Homo sapiens: one gene and its partners. The protein of the gene in region 1 interacts with the protein of each later gene in a pairwise test. Each region holds a gene or a part of one and is shown on either strand. Other genes may lie near its edges.

Evidence for each region. The genes of interacting proteins can lie anywhere in the genome.
Region 2: the proteins of TPRG1 (region 1) and SCN3B interact in binary tests that used the Homo sapiens proteins (3 or more experiments, as listed by UniProt).
Region 3: the proteins of TPRG1 (region 1) and SLC35H1 interact in binary tests that used the Homo sapiens proteins (3 or more experiments, as listed by UniProt).

What each region holds. Positions count from the first base shown.
Region 1 is NC_000003.12:189,202,960-189,209,986, forward strand, and holds part of TPRG1 (tumor protein p63-regulated gene 1 protein), read left to right. Parts: intron 1-4,416; coding exon of another isoform or gene 4,417-4,425; coding exon 4,426-4,635; intron 4,636-7,027.
Region 2 is NC_000011.10:123,630,598-123,637,624, forward strand, and holds part of SCN3B (sodium channel regulatory subunit beta-3 precursor), read right to left. Parts: intron 3,610-7,027; coding exon 3,546-3,609; 3' UTR 3,524-3,545; intron 3,180-3,523; 3' UTR 1-3,179. UniProt on the Homo sapiens protein: Regulatory subunit of multiple voltage-gated sodium (Nav) channels directly mediating the depolarization of excitable membranes.
Region 3 is NC_000020.11:46,354,399-46,361,425, forward strand, and holds part of SLC35H1 (solute carrier family 35 member C2), read right to left. Parts: intron 4,561-7,027; exon of another isoform or gene 4,366-4,560; 5' UTR 4,328-4,365; coding exon of another isoform or gene 4,293-4,327; 5' UTR 4,161-4,292; coding exon of another isoform or gene 4,109-4,160; coding exon 3,989-4,108; intron 3,376-3,988; coding exon 3,225-3,375; intron 2,240-3,224; coding exon 2,176-2,239; intron 1,477-2,175; coding exon 1,404-1,476; intron 844-1,403; coding exon 675-843; intron 568-674; coding exon 484-567; intron 1-483.

The DNA of each region.
Region 1 (7,027 bases):
ACAGCGAACTGGAGTCCAGAAAACTAGAGGTCGGGTTGCATGTTTTCATTCTATGGAGCTGTGTGGCCATGGACAACCCTCATTTCAGGGGGTCTGTTTCAATATTTGCCAAATAAAAAAGTTGAACTAAACAATAACTTTTAAGCTATAATTTATGCCCTACATGCTTCTATAATATTATTAGAAAAATTCTCAGAGAGATAGATGAAGTTCCTTATAAATGGAAGCAGTTATACTTAGACCAGGATCTGGAAATAAGTTATTTACTATAATACTATATTAAATTTAGTTCTGAATTTTCTGGCAGCTGAGAAATATAGTATTTCTATTGTCTAATCAAAGGCAAGGTAGTACTTCCTTAAGGCTTTATTTGGGATTTTTTTTTTAATGCTAAAAAAATCAGCACTACTGCCATTTAATTTTTTTAAAAGAGCAAAAATTGACGCACAATCCACTACTTCAATAAATATAACTATTTTCTTTCTAGTCTTTACCAATGTGAAATTATTCAGTGGAACATTCCAAGATAAAATATTTTTGGTTTCCTGCTTTATTTCACTCAAGAAGATACAACTGTTAATCTCGTGCTACTGCAATGTTTGCGTGTTATTTTGAATGCCTGTGTAATACCAGTTGGATATACTTAGCCATTCCTTGAACATTAGGTGTTTAGTTGGTTTTCCATTTTTCATTACTACTCAGAATAAGCAATTAATATTGTAGCATTTTGCTTCTTTCAGGTAGTTTTTATTACATGAATTCCCTGGAATGAGAAGATTCCATGAAAAAGTATGAACATTGGCTGGGCAAGGTGGCTCATGCCTATAATCCCAGGACTTTGGGAGACTGAGGCGGGTGGATCACGAGGTCCAGAGATCAAGACCATCCTGGCCAACATGGTGAAACTCTGTCTCTACCAAAAATACAAAAAATTAGCTGGGCATGGTGGCAAGCACCTGTAGTCCCAGCTGCTCTGGAGGCTGAGGCAGAAGAATTGCATGAACCCAGGAGGCGGAGAATGCAGTGAGCCTAGATCGTGCCACTGCACTTCAGCCTGGTGACAGAGCGAGACTGTCTCAAAAAAAAAAAAAAAAAAAAAAAAACTGAACATCATTTACTTTTTCTAAGTTTTGACCCTTTGTTTTCCTATGAAATTGTGCTGCCTTTACTCTCTAAATGAAGATATAAATTTACTGGGAAATATTACAGAACAGCAAATCTTTTCAGTTCTAAAAGGCTCCCAATGAGTTTGTTGCAGGGGATGATTGATCTATGTGAAAGCAATGGAACATTTGATTTTGATCTGTTACTGGTATTAATGTACCTTTAGCATTTCACGGAATACAGCCTATGCAGGGATAGAAGAGCACTTACTATTGAATTGGGAATGAACTGGGCCAGAGGTCATGAGAAATAGAGTGGAATGTGTAGATGTGCAGCACGCTTCTCCTGTTGGGGAAGCTGAGGAAGTTCTGTTTATTGTTCTTCTAAGATGTTCCTGTGACTGGAACAGAGCTGGAATTACTCTGGATTGGGATAGCTGGGCTCAACTTTCCCACTATTTATGGCAGTGAGAATTTAAACGGAGCTGAGAGTTTCCTTCTTTCCTGGATCTCAAACAGCTTGGTCTCAGAGCGCAGAGCTTCCCCAAGTGTTTCCAGAGAAGACAGCCTGAGGGAGAGGAAGTGGTGCTAATTAAATCCTCCCTCTGTTTTCCAGGCACAGGAGCCTTTCGCAGATGTCTGTTGTTAGGCGTGTGTTCACAGAGTGCGCAAATACAGAAGCAGGCTTTCCTTCCCCAATGGCACAAACCTTCCTTCACAGGTTATAGAGAACTTTAGAAATGCATTTCCTTCCAACACCCACTGTGATAAAGGTGGCAGACCTGCATAAATACAGCATGTAGCTGCCAGGGACAGGAAGGTCAGAGTGCCTCCTCTGTCTGTCTTTCTTTCTCTGTCTCTGTCTCTATGTCTCTCTCTCTCTCTCACACACACACACACACACACACACACACATACACTCTTTCTCCTGCTTCTTCATTCCTTGTTTTCTCAGAGACCAATTTCTACCTTTTGCACACCTAACTTTAAAAGATCACCTAAAAGCTCAGAGACATCTTTTCTGTCATAAGGCAGATGTTGGGTGTGCTATACTGGGGGCATGGTTGGGAGGACACTTGCTGCTACGACTATTCAAGTGTGACCCTGGGTGGTTCCCATCTACTCTGTGTTCCTCAGAAAGATGGGGAAAGACTAAGTAGCTCTTCTAGGATTGCTGGAAAGATCGGATAAGAAAACATATAAAGCTTAAGAAATCATATAAAGCAAACTGCATAAGGCTTTCCACTTGTGAGTTACCTTAGCTGTGTTTTCTACATTCAAATCCTCAGGGTGAACATATATATAGAGCCACATTTGCCTGAGACTGTCCAGTTCACTCCTATCATCCTGACATAATTGTCAATAGCACCCTTTTCATGCCAAAATATCCCAAAATTAGCTAATAAATTATATGATCATACTATTTTTACCTCTTGTGAATAGCCTAGTTAATCCCAATTTCAAAAGCGGAAGCTTGCTGGGGATAGGGGCTTCTTCTCACCTTCTTTTGTTTCACAAGAACCAAGGAAATTGATTAAAAACCACTTTTGTTTAAGAACAAGGAGGTGACTCCGAGAATAATATGGCATTCCTACTTTCATGGTGAAAATGGACATGAAACTTTCTAGGTAGCATTGATAACATGCTCACTGTCAGCTTGAAAGGATTTGAGTGCACAGGCTAAGCTAACATGTGTCTTCTATTTTATTTTGCTTTGCTTTATATGTACAAAATAGAAACCAAGATATTATTTTTATTTATTTTTAAACCATGTGTGATCATTACTAGCACCCACAGACATGCAAACAAAAATAAAAATCACCTCTAACACTGTCATCTAGAGATAACTATTGTTATATTTTATTTTACTTCTTTTCAGGCCCTCTTTTTAGACATTTTTAAATCTGTTATACCATACATGTGTGCCTGTATATACATATGCAGGTACATTTCCTTCCTTCCTTCCTTCCTTCCTTCCTTCCTTTCTTCTGTCTTTCTTTCTTTTTTCTTTCTTTCTTTTTCTTTCTTTCTTTCTTTCCTTCTTTCTTTCTTCTCTTTTTTCCTTCTTCCTTTCCTTTCCTTCTTTATCTTTCTTCTCTTTCTTTCTAAATTATTTTAACAAATTGGAATAATATTATTTATAATATTTTTTAACTTACTTTTTTCCATTTATAATATATTTTGGATATTTTTCTGTGATAAAATATACACTCACACTTTCAGTGATAACATTGTATTTACAGTGCAACATATTTTATTTAGTCAACTTCTTACTGATGGATACTTATTTTATTTTATTTTTTGGTGTTAGACTCAATGTTGCATGAATGTCTAATGTTTTTACATACAGTGTTGTATGAGATATAAAGTGGTGTGTTTTTCTTTTATATATAACCTGGTATATTTTTCTATTAGATGCGGTGTTGTGATGAACAAACTTTTTTTTTTTTTTTTTTGAGACAGGGTCTTGCTCTGTTGCCTAGCCTGGAGTGCAGTGGCATGATCTTGACTCACTGCAACTTCCACTTCCTGTGCTCAGGTGAACCTCCCACCTCAGCCTACCGAGTAGCTGAGACTATGGGCACATTCCGCCATGTCTGGCTAATTTTTGTATTTTTTGTAGAGACTGGGTTTCGCCATGTTGCCCAGGCTGGTCTCAAACTCCTGAGCACAAGGGATCTACCAGCCTCAGACTCCTAGAATGCTGGGATTACAGGCATGAGTCACCATGCCCAGCTGAACAACCGTGTGTGTGTGTGTGTGTGTGCACGCGTGTATGCATGTGCGTGTGTGTGAGTCTTTGGGTATTCGTCTAATTATTTTCTTAGAATAAATTTTTAGAATTCGAATCTTTCAGTTAAAAACATGTTCAGTTCTAAGTGCTCTTATGCTCTATTATGACTCAAGAAGCACACAAGAAAATGCATTATCATTGCTTTTAACTCTTAAATAAGCTTGCAGTCTGGTGAATTTTCAACCAAAAATGCTATGCAATTTTGAAGAGAAATTGTCTGGTAATTATTTTATATAGCTCTTCTCTTGTTCAGGTTCCTGTCTCCTGGGATTAAACTCCTTTTCTCTGTCCGGAGAGTCTCTCCTTCACTTCTCTGGTAAATGACCTTGCAGGATTGTGGATGGTATTTAGAAGTCTGTGTTATGAAGCTGTATCCACCAATGCCTCTGTTTAGTTAACATGAAGGATGTTTTTAAGTTTCAGGAATTCCGTTTGCTCATCATATTCTGTTTTGCCATAGCTAGGACACAGGTACAGAGGTAACATTTTTTCAATGAGATTTTTCTGCCCTTGGTTTAGGCTGAAGAAATGTCAACAATTGGGAGTTTTGAAGGATTCCAGGCTGTGTCTCTGAAGCAAGAGGGAGATGACCAACCCTCTGAGACTGACCACCTATCGATGGAGGAAGAGGACCCGATGCCAAGACAGATTTCAAGGCAGTCAAGTGTGACCGAATCAACTCTTTACCCCAATCCTTATCATCAGCCTTATATCTCACGGAAGTACTTTGCTACACGGGTAAATTTATTGGTTCTCTTAAATACTATATAAAAATTCACCCCAAGACATCTTAAAATCCTTCTGTGTATCACATATTTACTGAGTGTACTCACATTTGTCTCATGTAATCGTCATAATAATCATGAAGTAGCTATCCTTATCCCTATTTAAAGATGAAGGATCTGAACTTTAGAGAATTTAAAGATCTATGTTTGATTCCACAGATAGTATTAAGGAGAAGTGTGTCCTCGAGCTTCCTTCTTTGGTTCCTCAGTTTGTGTTTATGCTAAACCTGATCTCAAAGAACTAGTATTCCATAAAGAGAGAACCATAGCAGCTAGAATACAAAGCTGTTAATCCAGTGAGGGTATTCATTGTTTGTGTGGAAAAGATATGGATAATGGAGTGGAGAGGGTTGCTAAGATCGCACTGACTCTCTAAAGTTTACGATGGGATGCTCATATTACAACGAGGGAGCAGGTAGCTTTAAATCTCAAACCTACAGCGACCAGCTGGAGCTGAGCTCTCTTACCTGTGCAATGGAGCTGGGAAAGTAAATGGATGGGTAAGTAAGCAGGAGGGAGCTTGTATATCTGGATGTTAAAAAAGCAGTATTTTTAACTTTTAGCATTTGATTCAAGTGGAGAGTGCTTCATAGGTTTCTAGTACCTTTCCCTCTTGAGCTCTTCTTCCTACTTATAGATCCTCTTTCCAATCCTTCAACATTCTTATTAGCACAGTCATGGTTAGCTTAGAGGTTACAATCAATTGGGGGCAAAATCAGGGAGTTTACACTATGGCAACAGAGAACATCTCATTTTCATGTGTACGTGGGAGATCTTTTTGGAAAAAAAATGTATTTCAACTCATTCTCATAAAAAATTGGGGCCAGGGTTTTGTGACTTTTCCAAAGCTTTAATTAATAAATCCTGATTTGGTTGCTTTCAAAAGATATCTTTGGTTTAGGTAAAGTTTTAACTAAAGCAACTTAACGAGTGTGTGTGTGTGCCTGTGTGAGTCTGTGTTTAAACACTGCATATACTCTTATGTGCAAGATGCTTTAGTAGGTGCGATACTATATGTGTGTTTGTGTGAGTGTTTCTGCATATGTAGAGCATATGGTTTGTTTTCCGAAGTATGTGAACTTTATTGAATATGCAAAGTTAAGCTGTGTGATATAGCTGCAAAGGAAATCAAAGCATCTCTTGGAGTTGTGCTATCTTTGATATTGATGATGTAGGGTTTGATGATAGAAGAACACACTGCGATATAGAATAAAGATTTATTGCTGGGAGCTGATGCAATTATGAGAGCTGGCTGGGACTATGGAAAGTTGTTTTCTCTGAATCTGGTGTTGGGCCTGAAGTTAGAATAGGCCAATCAGTTGGCAGTTGTGAAGAGGAAATAGGGAAAAAGGAATAGGAAAAAATTGCATGGACAAACTGGAATGTCTGGTGACAATGTTTAACTTATGAGGAAAAACTGGAACCTATGTCTGTCTCCCACCAAGTCTAACCTTGATGGTGTGAGGTCACTTTTAGAAGCTAGTGCTTTCATTACTGAGCTACACACTTAACTAGCCCAGGGAGAGGAAAGTCTTAGAAAAAAAGCCTGACTGTGATGGAAGGAGACGCAGGTACAGGGGCTACCCCTTGCCGTTAAGTAAACCAGGATAACAGTTGCCATGAACATGAGTTGTCACAGTGCATGGTGACCTGCACTGATCTTCAACAGGGAAAACGACTTATGTTTCAATTCTACCTTTTGAATATTACACAGGTGTCTCTTGTTGCCAGCCCTAATTTGGAAACACACACAAAAAAGCAATTCTAGAAAATGTAGTTTCAGCTCAGCTAAATTGACAGAGTCCAAATCCACTACACATGATGATTGTATTGGTGTTGTACCATGTAGCTTATACAGCAAACTCACATCCTTTATCTGTTTGATTCCCCAGAGCAATACTGGGAGGCAGGCAGGAGAGGGCTTAACATCCGTGTTTTAAAGATGAACATATTGAAGTTTGAGAAAAATGAAGTGACCTGTCCAAATCATATAATGTTAGTGGAAGGGCTGCAGCTAGATTCCGGGTCTTGATTCTGGAACTTCTTTCTCCAAGTCCAATACTTTCCTGACCACGCACAGTAGAATTTATGGCTCCTTTATAAGTGTTTTCAATGACTGATTCCAATCAATGCGAAGAATATCTTTTTCATTAGGTGTATCGAAAACAATCTTAAGTTCTCAAAAGCTTGTGAGGGATCTAAAGTAAACCTGAAGACTCTGGGAACCAATAGGGAGATTTTCCCAAGATACTCAGTGTTTGCCCTCCTTCAGACCAACAAACATAGTATGAAGAGCTCTTATTGCCATGTGAGTAAAATAAATGTGCATTCACACACATGAGAAC
Region 2 (7,027 bases), on another chromosome or scaffold:
GAAGTAGGCTGGTGATCACAGTACCTTATTGATTTACAGTCATTATCAAATCTCCCAGGAAGGAGTTTAATTGCAATTCAGGAGAAATAATGATGTACAAACCAACTAGAAAGAGAACCAAAATAGGACTGACTCTCAAAGCACATTGCTAGCATCCACCAAAAAGCAAAGTGGTAGAGAAGCAGTGAGTGGGATTAGGGGTGAGAGAAGATGGAGAACATTAGGACAGGCAAGATAGGCAATGGTTAGATGGAAGCTAAAAAATAAGAAAAGGAAGCAGCTATGGTCTAAGTGGAAAGAGAACTGAAAGAGGAGTCAGAAGACCTGGATTCTTGCTGTCTACCTACCAGCTAGGTTTCCTTATAATTTAGTAAAGCTACTTAACCTCAGAGACCCTCAGTTTCTTCTTTTGTAATGTGACCTCACAGGACCAGTTATAGAGAAGAAATAAAATAGTTAAGTGAAAATACTTCGTAAACCATATAGTTCTAATGAAAGTGTCAAGAATGAGAAGAATGGAGAAGTTAGAAAAAGGAAGAGTGGGGAAGATAACCTGTCAAGGATAAATAAGTGATAGATACCATTCAGCTTCATTAAAAGCCACGCAAGCAGCATCTGAGTTGGGTTTTTTTAAAAAGAAGAGAAAAAGGCAATCATGCATACTGCCGGGTTCAACTTAGATACACGAGCTATTGGGCCACCGAGGAAAACGGTGTGGTAGTAAGCATCTTGCTACTACCGCAAGCTGGTGGCATCCATGAGCTATGGGACTGGAAAAATTTCACACTGAGGCCAATTTTTCTAACTATAAAGTTAAAAAGGTCTATATCCTCTCCCTTATTTCAGAGGGATTGTGTGGAAAATTACCAATAAGAAGAGTCTTGAATTTATTGCAAATATTTTCTTCAACAAAATCAGACTCTTTAATGTGTTAACGGTCTGGTTTTGGGCCAGGCACAGTTGCTCAGGCCTGTAATCCCAGCACTTTGAGAGGCTGAGGCTGGCAGATTGCTTGAGCCCAGGAGTTCAAGATCAGCCTGGGCGACATGGCAAGACCCCTGTCTCTACATAAAATACAAAAATTAGCCAGGCATGGTGGTGCATGCCTGTAGTCCCAGTTACCTGGGGGCTGAGGTGGGAGGATTGCTTAAACCTGGGGCAGTTGAGGCTGCAGTGAGCTGAGATTGCACCACTGCACTCTAGCCTGGGAGACAGAGTGAGAATCTGTCTCAAAAAAATAATAATAAATAAATAAAAATTTAAAAGTCTGGTTTTAAGTACTTTCCTAGGGATGGAAGAATGAAAAAAATGAGCTTTTAAGGTAAAGCCCTAAACCTATGGAATATGGTCTTTCCCTATAAAGGGAGGTCCCAGGTCTGAGGGACCTCTCTCTCGCTGAATCCCAGTCACCTTCATCTTCTTACATTCCATAAAGCATCTTTCCCCTCTCTTGTCCCTGGGTGCTGAAGGATGTCACACTTGGACCTGTCACTTAATTAAAATGAAACACGAGATATTGACTAAAGTTTTTTCCAGTTTCTCTGCTCCCTCAAAATCTAGGGGAAAAAAATCTGAAAATTATGCATTCATAGGCGAAGTATTTGGAAAGCACCTACCCATCCCTCCCCTCTCACACTGCTCATTTACTTATGATCCATCTCAGACTAAACATTTTTCTTAGTTTAAATATCAGTCTCAGATGCACTCTCCTTTTGGAGGATATTTCAGAGTCACAGATCTTTACATAAAGGAAGTTCTTTAAGTCTACCTCATGTTCTTCTCCCTGCTTTTTTGGCCAATTTCTAGTCATCTGAATCTATCAGAGTTGACCTCAGCCCAGTCCGTGCTTGTGAAAGAAGCATTGCCATAGACAAGTTCAATGTCAGTCTTTTCAGAAACAAAGTTATCCACCGGGCGCAGTGCCTCACGCCTGTAATCTCAGCACTTTGGGAGGCTGAGGTGGGTGGGTCATTTGAGGTCAGGAGTTCAAGACTAGCCTGGCCAACATAGTCAAACCCTGTCTGTACTAAAAATACAAAATTTAGCCAGGCGTGGTGGTGCACACCTGTAATCCCAGCTACTGGAGAGGCCGAGGCATGAGAATTGCTTGAACCCAAGAGGCAGAGGTTGCAGTGAGCCGAGATCACACCACTGCACTCTAGCCTAGGTGACAGAGTGAGACTCCATCTCAAACAAAAAAAACAAAAAACAAAACAAACAAAAACATCCATCCCAGGAAGTGTAAACTGGGCAGCACCTAAGGCTTATTTCTGCTCCAGTTTATCCTCTTAAGCCTCTTATTCAGTTGAGCCCTGTATGAGTCTTAGTTGCCTCCTGTATGTAAAATGAGGAATAATACTGGTGCACAGAAATTTTGAGAGGAAGAACTCAGGAATTTCAGTCCTAATGCCCAGGTGGTGTGCCCACAGGGAGGGCACACATACATTATCGCAATAGGATCAGGAACGTGTCCAGAAACATGTTGCATGACTTTTTAAGAGCCACTTAAATTACCATTGGTCCTTCCCAAGTCTCCTGTCCTTGTCTTCTTGGAGGGAACCTTAGAGACCCATCAGGATCTAGCTCTGGAGTACTAAGCTCCAGAGAGCATGTTAGTCCATGCTTCAGGATCTTTCTGTCACTGGAGAACCTAGACAGGCGTGCTTCACTCTGATGCTGTAGCAAAGTGGGCCATGAACCTGACAAAACTGACTTCAGGGAATCCAAGTTCATGACACACTTTTGCTTTAACCCGAACTAATCACTCCTGCTTCCTTCTATTAAGACTTCCATTCTCTTGCAGTAATGGAGAATGAACCAGTTCCAGCCAGTTAAGGGCAGAGGGAGGTGCTAACTCCAGCACTTGTACAAAGTCATTTGGAGCACAGGGGAGAAATCCAGTTGGCTTTGGAGTGTCTTGTTGGAAAACTAGGAGAGGGTGAGGTTGAGTCTATGTAGAAATGTTGGCTTCTCAGTTCTGGCAGAGTCTTATGGTGCGTAGAGGTCTGATGGAGTTAGGGAGTCAGAGGTGAAAGCTCAGAGGCAGGTGGATGTATGGATGAATGAATGAACAGAACAATGGATGCATGAAGGGAAGCGATGGGGCCCTTGGGGCGCCCTCCTGATGCCATTGACATTGCTGAACATGGGATGTCCAGTCCCTCAGGTGTTCAGGCCACCTACCAAAGATAAAATAACTCACTGAGAATTTCCCACCCAGTCCAGCCCAGCCCAGCCCAAAAATTCTTTGACCAAAGAAGGGAGTTGGAGAATCCTGTGCCTCTGTTACCATGGGCAAGTTCAGATTGCCTCGACACTCAGGTCAAAGCAGTTCACCTTCCGAAGCGCTGACATCATACAGAGCTTTCTGACTTAAAGAATTACCCTGAGGGCGGGGACCCCAGGCAGGGTAGACAGTGACCTAAGGGACCAAATTTAAAGTCACTTCAGTTGTGGGCAACAAAGTCACTTGTACAACCTGCCATCCACATCTGCCTTCCCCTCCCATGTTCCTGTAGGTCACCTCATGTCACACTGCTCCTGTTCTATTCCTCCACTGGTACCGCAGAGTTCTCCTTGTTCTCAGATGGGATGGCAAGGTAGTCAGACCTATAGAGGACACAGGGAAAGGGAATCAGAGCTTCAGTGCCCAGCGTGGGAACACAAGATGGGGAAGGAGCAGGGCACAGGAGCAAGGATCTACAGAACAGCTCTGCATTTCCTTCTGCTGTGTTTCTCAAGAGAAAAACAACCTTTTCTGCAGATTAAAATAATCATTTCCCCCATATATGTACACGAACACCCACCAGGAGTGTATAGCTTCTCATTTATCCAGGTTGTCTTCAGCATTTAGTTAGATTATTATGTTGGCCAAGGCTCATGCCTCTAATCCCAGCACTTTGGGAGGCCAAGGCAGGAAAATTGCTTGAGCCCAGGAGTTCAAGACCAGCCTGGGCAACATGGTGAAACCCTGTCTCTACAAAAAATACAAAAAACTAGCCTGGCATGGTGGCACGTGCCTGTAGTCCCAGCTACTTGGGAGGCTGAGGTGGGAGGATCACCTGAGCCTGGGAGGTCGAGGCCATGATTGCACCACTGCACTCCAGCCTGGCAACAGTGAGACCATGTCTCAAAAATAAAATAAAATGTTGGTCAAAATGACAGCTGTGAAATTATATTTTATAGTTGTTTCACATGTTTACAGGCTATTTGGGTTTCTGCTTCTGAAATTTGTTCATCTGCTTTCCAGTTCTTCTGAGATCTTTGTCTTTTTCTCATTGATTTTCCTTTGATGCTTTCATGTTTTGACAATTTCTCCCAATCTCTTGTTTGTCTAGGAATTTTGCTTATGGAGTCTTCTAATGAACAGCTGATTCTTTACATATAATGTGATCAAAATTATTTTTCCTCTTGGATTTGTGCCTTTTGTATTTTATTTGGGAAATCCTCTCTATTGCATGGTGATAAAGAGAGTCTCTTATATTCCCTTAATGGAATTTTCAAGTTTGACATTTTACTTTGTGTTTAAATCCCCTCATAATTTATTTTGGTTTAGTATGAGAGATGGGGAATCTAATTTTGTTTTGTGTTTTTCTTTGTTTCTATATAGATTAGGAATTTTCCCTAGACCACTTACTGGGCAGTTCATTCTTCCTTCAATCACTGTAACGTCATCTCTCTCACATATCAGGTTTTCCTACATGCATTAACCTGATTGGTGGCTTTTTGTTTTGTTTGTCCATTTCGTATGCCTGTGCAGTATCACAAACTCTGTATTCTGATAGCTCTGTAAGAAACCTTCATCTGGCTGGGCGCAGTGGCTCACACCTGTAATCCCAGCACTTTGAGAGGCCAAGGCGGGTGCATCACGAGGTCAGGAGATTGAGACCATCCTGGCTAACATGGTGAAATCCCGTCTCTACTAAAAAAATACAAAAAATTAGCCAGGCGTGGTGGCAGGTGCCTGTAGTCCCAGCTACTCGGGAGGCTGAGGCAGGAGAATGGCGTGAACCTGGGAGGCAGAGCTTGGAGTGAGCCGAGATCGCGCCACTGCACTCCAGCCTGGGCAACAGAGCGAGACTCTGTCTCAAAAAAAAAAAAAGAAAACAAAGGAAACCTTCATCTCCGATAAGACAAATCCTACCAACCTCTTGCAAATTTACTGCTCTTTCTTTGAAATGGTTTAGACCGAGGGTGGGCAAACTGTGGCCTAAGAGCTAAGGATGGTTGTTTGCAAACAAATAGAAGAACAATACATGACAGGGACCTATGGCGCCTGCAAAGCCTAAAACACTTATTATCTGGCTGTCCCTTGGTTAAGACTATTTTTGGCTACTTAGCCTTCCATGTGACTTAATATCAGCTTATTAAGTTCTTTGAGAAATCTAATGGGCATTTTGATTGGGATTTCATTGAATTTGAAGATCAATTTGGGAGAAAATTGTTTACAATTGTGAGGTTTTACTCTCCATCTAGTTACGTTTAAAGTCTTTCAGTAAAGGTTTCTAACTTTTTCTTTAAATGTCTTGTATATTTTTGTCAAATTTATCCCCGGAACTGGGGAGTACTTCTTGCTATTGTAACTTTAAAAGCATTTTAATATTTTAAATATTTAAATTTGTTACTAAATTTGTTGCTGGAATATAGGTGATTTTTATATTTTGATTTCTATCAACAATTTTGTGGAATATTCTTCCTTGTCCTAATAGTATTTTTGTAGATTCTCTTAGGTATCCTATGTAAATAGTAGGTATAGATAATGATAATTTAGTTTCTTCCTTTCCAAGTCTTTTTCTTCCTTGTATTTACTTGGTCTTCACCTAGGATTTCCAACACAATATTGATAGAAACAGGGAGAGGCAGTCTCCTTGATATGTCCCTGATATTACAGGCACTTGAGGTTTCAACACATAGATGATATTTGCTGTAGGGTCTCTTAGTAGCTGCCATTTATCACTTTAAAGATGCTTGGTGTTTAGGTGTAGATGTATTTTATTCATCCTGCTCAGGGCATATTATGCTTCTTGAATCTGAAGAGTCATCCCTCCCTCAGCCGTTCTGTCTCTGAACACTGTCTCTCCTCCATTCTCTGTTCTATTCTGTTTTTTTTTTTTTGAGATGGAGTCTCGCTCTGTCGCCGAGGCTGGAGGGCAGTGCCGTGATCTCGGCTCACTGCAAGCTCCGCCTCCCAGGTTCACGCCATTCTCCTGCCTCAGCCTCCTGAGTAGCTGGGACTACAGGCACCCGCCACCATGCCCGGCTAATTTTTTGTAGTTTTAGTAGAGACAGGGTTTCACCATGTTAACCAGGATGTCTCGATCTCCTGACCTCATGATCTGCCTGCCTCGACCTCCCAAAGTGCTGGGATTACAGACGAGAGCCACCGCGCCCGGCCAAAATGATGCTTTCTTTATCAAACATTTCTAACTGGTAATAGCCTAGACTGTTTTCGGTTTGCCTCAGCAATGTTGCTAGAAATCTGTGGGTTTTTTCTATCTTTCCTTTCCCCAGACAACCAGCCAGCATGATCTCTTAAGACTCTTTGTTCTTACAGACCCCACCGTTTCTCAAATGTGCTCACCCTCAAGTGACTAGAGTCTCTGAGCAAATGGCTAAGGTACAGGCTGGACTTTAGAGGATTAGAGTCCCCACTCTGGACATCTAAGCGCTGCCAGGCTCTAGGGGAAATAACATGTTGCTTGGAGCTCCTTTGCTAGCAAAGGGCAGTGCCCAGATGGCCTGAGGAGCTCCATGGTATAAAGCAAACAGTTCAATGAGATAGAAAGAGCATGGACATTAGCACTAGAGAGACCTGGGTTCAAATCTCAGCCTTTCCTCTTACCATCTGTGTGCCTTGGTAAGCTGCTATGAGTCGGCTTGGCATTTACAGAACGGTTATAATAATGTTACTTTTTTGTTGTGTTTTTGGGCTTTTATTGTTGTTGTTTTTGAAATGGAGTCTCGCTCTGTCACCCAAGCTGGAGAGCAGTGGCACGATCTCAGCTCACTGCAACCTCCGCCTCCCAGG
Region 3 (7,027 bases), on another chromosome or scaffold:
TCTTGGAACAATCCCTGATTCCCCATTCCTTAGAGGCAAGATAGGGTGGTTAAGAGTAGGGCTGGACCACTTGGAGCCAGGCTGCTGGCTTCAAATTCTGGCTCATTTACGAGCTATGGGACCTTGGGCAAGTTATCTTTACTTCTCTGGGCCTCATTTTGTTCTACCTGCAAAATGGGGGATAATAATAGTACTGCCACACCAGGTTTTTGGAAGGATGAAATGAGTTCCTATGTTTAAAAAGATCAGAACAGCCCTGGTGCACTTTCAGGGCTCTGTGCACACTTACTGTTACTGTTCCCTGAATTTTATATGTGCTTTCTCTGTAGCGTTTATCATGCTGGACCCCAAACCATGCGCTTCCAGGGGAGGGACTGCATCTTTGATCTCAATAATCTCTGCAGCTACCACTGTGTTGGGCTCAGGGCGAGGATCTGTGGTCTGCTGCACTGAGGTGCCCTTGAGAGGGAAGGCCCAACGTACCTTCAAATACAGCAAAGAGAGGGAAGAGCCCCAGGAACATGAGTGGCTGCAGGTGGAACATGGTGTCGATGGGATTCTGGAGGCCTGCAGGGCGGGGGACAGGCACCATCAGGTCTGGTCCGGCCCTGCCCTGCCTCCGCCCTGCCTGTGCCGGGGTTCCTCTCTCTGGAGGATGAGTGGCACGTGCTCACCGAGTTCAGCCTTCTGCAGGAGCATCTGGGTGAGGGTCCAGCGAATGCCACCGATGAACGAGGCCCCCAGCACCAAGGCGAAGCCCTCCACGTTGAACTGTGTGGACTTGTAGGTGAACATGAAGAGACCCCCGGCGATGAGGAGGACCACCAGGACCAGTGCCGCGCGCTGGTAGGATGGGGAGCAGTGGCAGCTAACTCGGGGGTCTTGAGGGTCAAGGGTTCATCACATTTGGAGCCTGGGGTCAGCAGCCATCTTGGCTGCCCCTGGGGCAAGAAATCCTTCCACCCTTCAGCTCCATCCCAGGGGGTCCTGGACAGTCCTTGCCCACCAATGTCAGCATGTAGGGCTGACGGTCAGCTGGTATGCCAACAGCCCTGCTTGCTCTGCCACACTGACGGCTGTCCTAGGCCCCCAAGTGGTCCCACCTCCTCCCTGGGCCTAACACACAGGGCTACTGCCTCCCACAGCAGGGTGCTTCCTAGACCCAGCTCTGCTGGGACCCTCATCCTGCAGTGCTTTCACCTTTGGTCATTACCCTGCCACACTGGTTTCTAAATATTCTGAGTATTGCCCATGTCTAGGTCCCTTCTCAGAAAGGGATCTACTGCCACCTGGACTGGGCTTGTCTCCTCTGTCACACAGCAGGACAAGCCACTGCTCAGACTCCCACTTTATTCTTAGCATCTGTGGGGGCAGGAAGGACACAAGAGACGCTGGGGCCTCACCAGCTCCTCCAGCTTGAAGATCAGAGAGAAGATCAAGATGAAGAGGACAGCTGAGGATTTGGTCATTGTGTACCTGGAAGCAAAATTACCCACAATGCACTGCTGGAGCTCAGGGCTCAGACCCATCACCGAGAAAGGAGCAGGAGCACAAATCACTGAGCGAAATGACCAAACAGAGCTGGGCTGTCATCTGAGTGATAAGCGACCTTTAATCAGAAGGAATCTCTGACTAAGAGGCCTCTGGTTATCACCAGAGAGAAGAGGTTACAGGTCTGACGTTGAGCTCCCTGAGTCCTGTTCTTTACCTAACCCTCGGCAGAGCCCAGGAGCGGGAAGGAAGGATGAGAAGTAGGAGGACAAGAAGGCAGGAACAGTGCTCTCTGAAGCAAAACATCAGAGGGAAGAAGAAACTCTTGTGTAGCCCCCAGGCCACATAGGGCTCTGCTGCGGCTGCGTGTACCACCCACCAGTGGCCACCTGTCTGTGGCCTTGCAGCCTGCCTTCCCCTGCTCTGATGATGGGGTTCTGGGAGAGCTCCCTGGCTTCCCCACGCTGCCTGGCAGGTGGGCACAGCATCTCCTCTGCGCTGGGCTTACGGAAGAGGCTGGCGACTTCCCGGAGAGCTGCTGGGTGCCAGGGAGAGGCTGAGAGAGCAAGGGCTGGTCCCAGAGTGGTGGAGTGGCTGGCCTAGCAGCCGGGTGTGCAGACACCCCGCTGGACAGACAGACAGCTTCAGCCTGAAGGGAGGCAGCAGGGCATGGCCAGTACTCACAGCGAGACGGTGACATACAGGAAGCTCCAGTTGGACAAGCCCACGTCAAGCGCCGTCGCCAGAGCTGTGAAGACACAGGCACCCACAGGACAGCTTGGGAGGTCCACACTCTGCTGGGGTGGGCTGGTACCCTGAGGCACCTGAGTGTCCCCCACTTCTGAACCATCCCGGTGCCTCCTGTGGGGCCCTTGGGCCTTCTTTTCCACCAGCAACTAAAGGGTTAATATCTGGCCCCCAAAGGTCGGGGGCTGCTCTAGCATTAGGGCTGGGGCCCATTCCAACTGGCTGGGCCGGTATGGTTTCCACAAACACTCCGGCGAGCCCCCTGAGCGGAGGTATTAACCTGATCTGGTTGATCCCTTACTGGAAACCCTTTTCCCTCAGGATGGAACACAAACTCCTCCACGGGGAATCCGGCCTCCAGGACATGACCCCTGCCCACCCTCTCAGTTCTCATTTTTCCCACTTCCTCTGGCCAGCACCGGGTTCTCAGTATCCTGAAACACTTTGAGTTCCCTTCCAGACCCCACAGCTGGCACTAAATCTCCCTCGGGCCACGAGGGCCCCTCCTCCCAGGGCCAACCAGTCCCACGCATCCTTCAGGGCTCTGCCTACTTGGCACCTGGCCTAGGAAATCTTCCTCTACCAGCCATGGGCCCCGGCCTTGGGTTGGTCCCCTCCCTGGGCTCCGTAGTGCCCTCCATGTCCGTGTCACAGCCCTGCGAGGGCAGGGACCCTGCCTGCTCACCACTTATCTCCAGGCCTGAGGGCTGCACTCCAGGCTCGGTGTCTGCTGGCAGGAGAGGGAGCTGCGGGGCCGCAGGTGCAGGGGGGGTTTTGTGGGTGTGTGGTGGGGCAGTGGGAAGGCACGCAGTGCACAAGAGGCAGCAGCGTGGGTGGTGGGAGGCCAGGTCAAGAGGGCAGAGGAGGAACAGTGCAGGAAGAGGGGAGGGACTTGGCTTCCAGACATGCGGGTGTCTCTCTTGTTCTCATCCTATGGTTCCCCAGCCCCTCTTCCTGCTCTGCCCTCACTGAGGTCCCCCACCTACCTGTGGGAGCCACTCTTCTGAGGTAGTCGGCCCAGCTCAGCACCACACGGGCCCTGTGGCTGGAGCACTGAACCAGCGCCCTGGACAGGGCGGAGAAGAGGAAGATCACGGCCAGGTGCAGCATCGTCATGAAGAGGGGGAAATGGAAGCTCTGTATGGAGCCCAAAGCAGACACCCCGGCTTGGTTTAGACAGCCTGCCCCCCACCGGCTCCCTCTTCCTCTTCGCCCCTCTGCTGGAGTGGGGCTCATTCGGTGGTTCATGAGGACCTTGCTATGTGTGTAGGGCCCTTAGTTACGGTATCATCGCTTGGAATGACAGACTCTTAGGTCACGAAGACAGGTGGCAGCCAAGAGACTCAATCCTAGCCTGGTGCTGTCTCCACCATTTCAACACACCTGTGAGCTACCTGCCCAGCCTTCCTCACGGCCTATGCCCAAGTGAGAGCCACTGCGGCCCACTACGTTGTATCACTTATTAAAATATTGAAATACTTCTCTAGTGGGGTAAATAGCTGCTGCTTGAGCCCCAGTTTCCCCAGCTCATCCCTTCACACCCCCCGCTCTCCTTGGTTTCCCTGGATCCAAACACTGAAGGGGAACCCTGGCACGGCAGGCTTGGAGGGCCCTGTTCCAGCCCAGCCGTGACTGGCTTCCAGTTAGACTGGTTGAAGCTTGTGCCTTCCTGTTAAACATGAAGGGCACCGTAGCCATGGCTCTGGCCACCTTCATCCCAGCACCCCGCCCCAGCAAGGCCTCCTGGTACCTTTGTCAGCCACTTGTTGTAGAAGGTGATGCCGATGGAGAAGCAGTAGTAGAGAAGCACCAGCCCCAGGGTCAACACCGCCTTCCACAAAAAGGCCACATCGAGGGCCCACCTCCCCATTCGTGGCGGCTGCAGCACCGGAGCTCCTGAGTCAGCGGGGGCAGGCACCCCTCTTGAATACAATGTGCAGGAAGAGCCGGTGGAGTTAGACCACAGCTTTCACCAAGAACGTCTCCAGGCTGGAGGAGCTCTCTGCAGCTCCATGATTCGGAACCATCAGCAGAGCCCCAGGCAGAGTCCTCACCTAAGGGGCTGGTGGCTGGTGCTGACCCTTCCCATGGTTAATTGGATGCAGCGCTCACAGGTCCCAAGGTCTGCTGCTGGGGAAAAAGGGCCGCTCTGGAGCCTCAGGCAGAGACTGTGCTTCTCGTAGCCATGGGTGCCTCTGAAGGCTGCGTGACTCAGGGCTCTGGAGGGGCTGCCCACAACGGCACAGGCAGTCCCAGAGACCCACGTCGTGTCTGCTGTCTTGTCACCTCAAGCTATTCTCCATGAACTGCCACCAAAGTGACCTTTTAAAACACAAACTGATCATGTCAGGCCACTGCTTAAAACCCTTCAGCAGCTTCCAGTGCTTTTCTGATAAAGACCAGCACCCTTCTTTCGGCTCCCATGGCCTCATCTGGCCCTGCTGGTCTTCCCAGTCTCAGCCACAGGCTCTCCAGGACCTGGCCCCACTGGGCGCCTTTCAGCTCCCCAAACACACCAGCTTTCTTCCCGTTGTCTGAAGGAAATGAACGAACACTGCACCCACCCTTCAGTCCTTCATCAATCCTACCTATCTTCAGCTCAGAGGTCACTTCTTCAGGGAACCCCACCCCATCCCCTGAATCAGTCCCCTGAGATACATGTTGCTTTCACGGCTCTCCTACTTCTCTTTCATAGCACTTGTGCAGGGTGTGATTTGAGTAATGTCTGTCCCCTGAGAGGCTACGAGCGGCACAAAGATAGGGACCAGTAAGACCACACTGGCCTTACGCACAGCTGGTGTACTTTAAGTTCTCCGTCTGGTTTGATGACTGACAGAGAGCAGGCATGCGATTTTCAGGGGACTGGTCTGGTCTTTAGGGGTTAAAAATGGAGAAGGAAACCAACACTCTAACGGCTGGAACACTGTAAGACCAGGCTGTAACCACTACTCCCTGGAAGCAGAGCCTGCCTTACGGTATTGCCAAATGAAACCACTCCCAGCCTCCCTGTCAATCCAGCCAACCCTGATGAGTGCCCGGAGCATGCCGGGTAGACCTGTCTGTGCCTGGAGGAGCCTCAGGTCCAGTGTTATGTGATGATACCTGCTGCTTCATCTGGGTGCCCCCCTCAACCACAGATCCTCCTTTGAGACATTCCCATCCTATTGAAACGCCACCTTCTTCTCGAAGCCTTCCTAGGCTTCACGATCAGACACATTCTCCATCTCCCACCCCAACATTTCTGAAGGGAGCAGTTACATTCCATTCTGCACTCTGGAACTCTTGTTACTATTTCCCCTCCCCGGGGCAAACAGGGAGCTGGCTGTGTCCAAATGAATCTCTGGGGCTACAGTTGTCTTCAGAGGAGCTTTGGAAACCTGTGGCGGTATTTTGGGGATATGCTCCTGGCGTTCAGTAAGCAGGGATAAAGAAGGGGCAGTCCACATAGCCAATTACTGCTCTGCATCCCGCACGACTTTGACATCCATATAGGTGAAAGATTAGCTTATAATTATCTGAACCTAGAATGTAACTCTGTTTACATGTAAACACAGTGCAGTGTTTCCATGGTTCTGCTGTGAACTAACACTTCCAAGAATAAGACGCCTATGTACAATGAAGGGAGACTGAAAATGGTCAAAATTGGTCTCAAAATGGCACCAAAAGTGTCCATTCTGGAAAAACCACATCATCTACAGCAATGGCACTAGTGGTTTTCGAGGTGCGACACAACACGGCTGTGTCAGTCTGTGTCTGTGGCCATCACACTCCTAGAGGGTCCACACAGAAGGGACAGCTTCACTGCAACTTCCAGCACTATTGTGCCCAGAAACTTACATATTGAAACATATTTTGTTTTACTATCAATTACTTTCCTTTTATGTTATAGGGCATGGTTATTTATATTTTATTTTATTTTTTTTTTGAGACGAAGTTTCGCTCCTGTTGCCCAGGCTGGAGTGCAATGGTATAATCTCGGCTCACCACAAGCTCCGCCTCCCAGGTTCAAGCGATTCTCCTGCCTCAGGCTCCCTAGTAGCTGGGACTGATTACAGGCATGCACCACCACACCCGGCTAATTTTTTATATTTTTAGTAGAGATGGGGTTTCTCCATGTTGGTCAGGCTGGTCTTGAACTCCCAACCTCAGGTGATCCGCCCGCCTTGCCTCCCAAAGTGCTGGGATTACAGGCGTGAGCCACCGCGCCCGGCTGCATTTGTTGATTTTTAAAAAATTATGTGTAGGCAGTTTTTATTAATCATATGTTTCATTTTAGGGTAATAAAAGGGACTGTTACAAAATATTTGTAATAAAAAAGAGGTGTCAGATCCAATGAGTTGAGACTCCTACCTGACCTAATGCATTCTCATTCCTTCAAATGCCTTCTGTAAGCTGATGTCTTCCCAATATATGCCCCGGCTCTGATTCATGTGAACTCCAGAAGAATATCCAATGCCTACCTAACCTCTTCTTCCCTTAGATATCTAATATCAGGCATCTCACTCACATCTAGAGTGTCTGAAACTGACTCGTGTTTTCCACACCCCCATTTCATCCAAGCCTGCTCCTCTTCCTACTTCCCATCCCAGCAAATGGCTCCACTACTCTCCTAGTTGCTCAGGCCAAAAGCCTTAGGCTCATCTGATTCCTCTCTTCCCCTTAGCCCACATTCAATCAATAAATACCGTCAGCTCTATCTTCAGAAATATCCCAAATATGAGCACATGTCCTGAACTCCACCACTACCATCTCAGCCACCATCCTCTCCCCAAATGACTGCAGGAGTCTC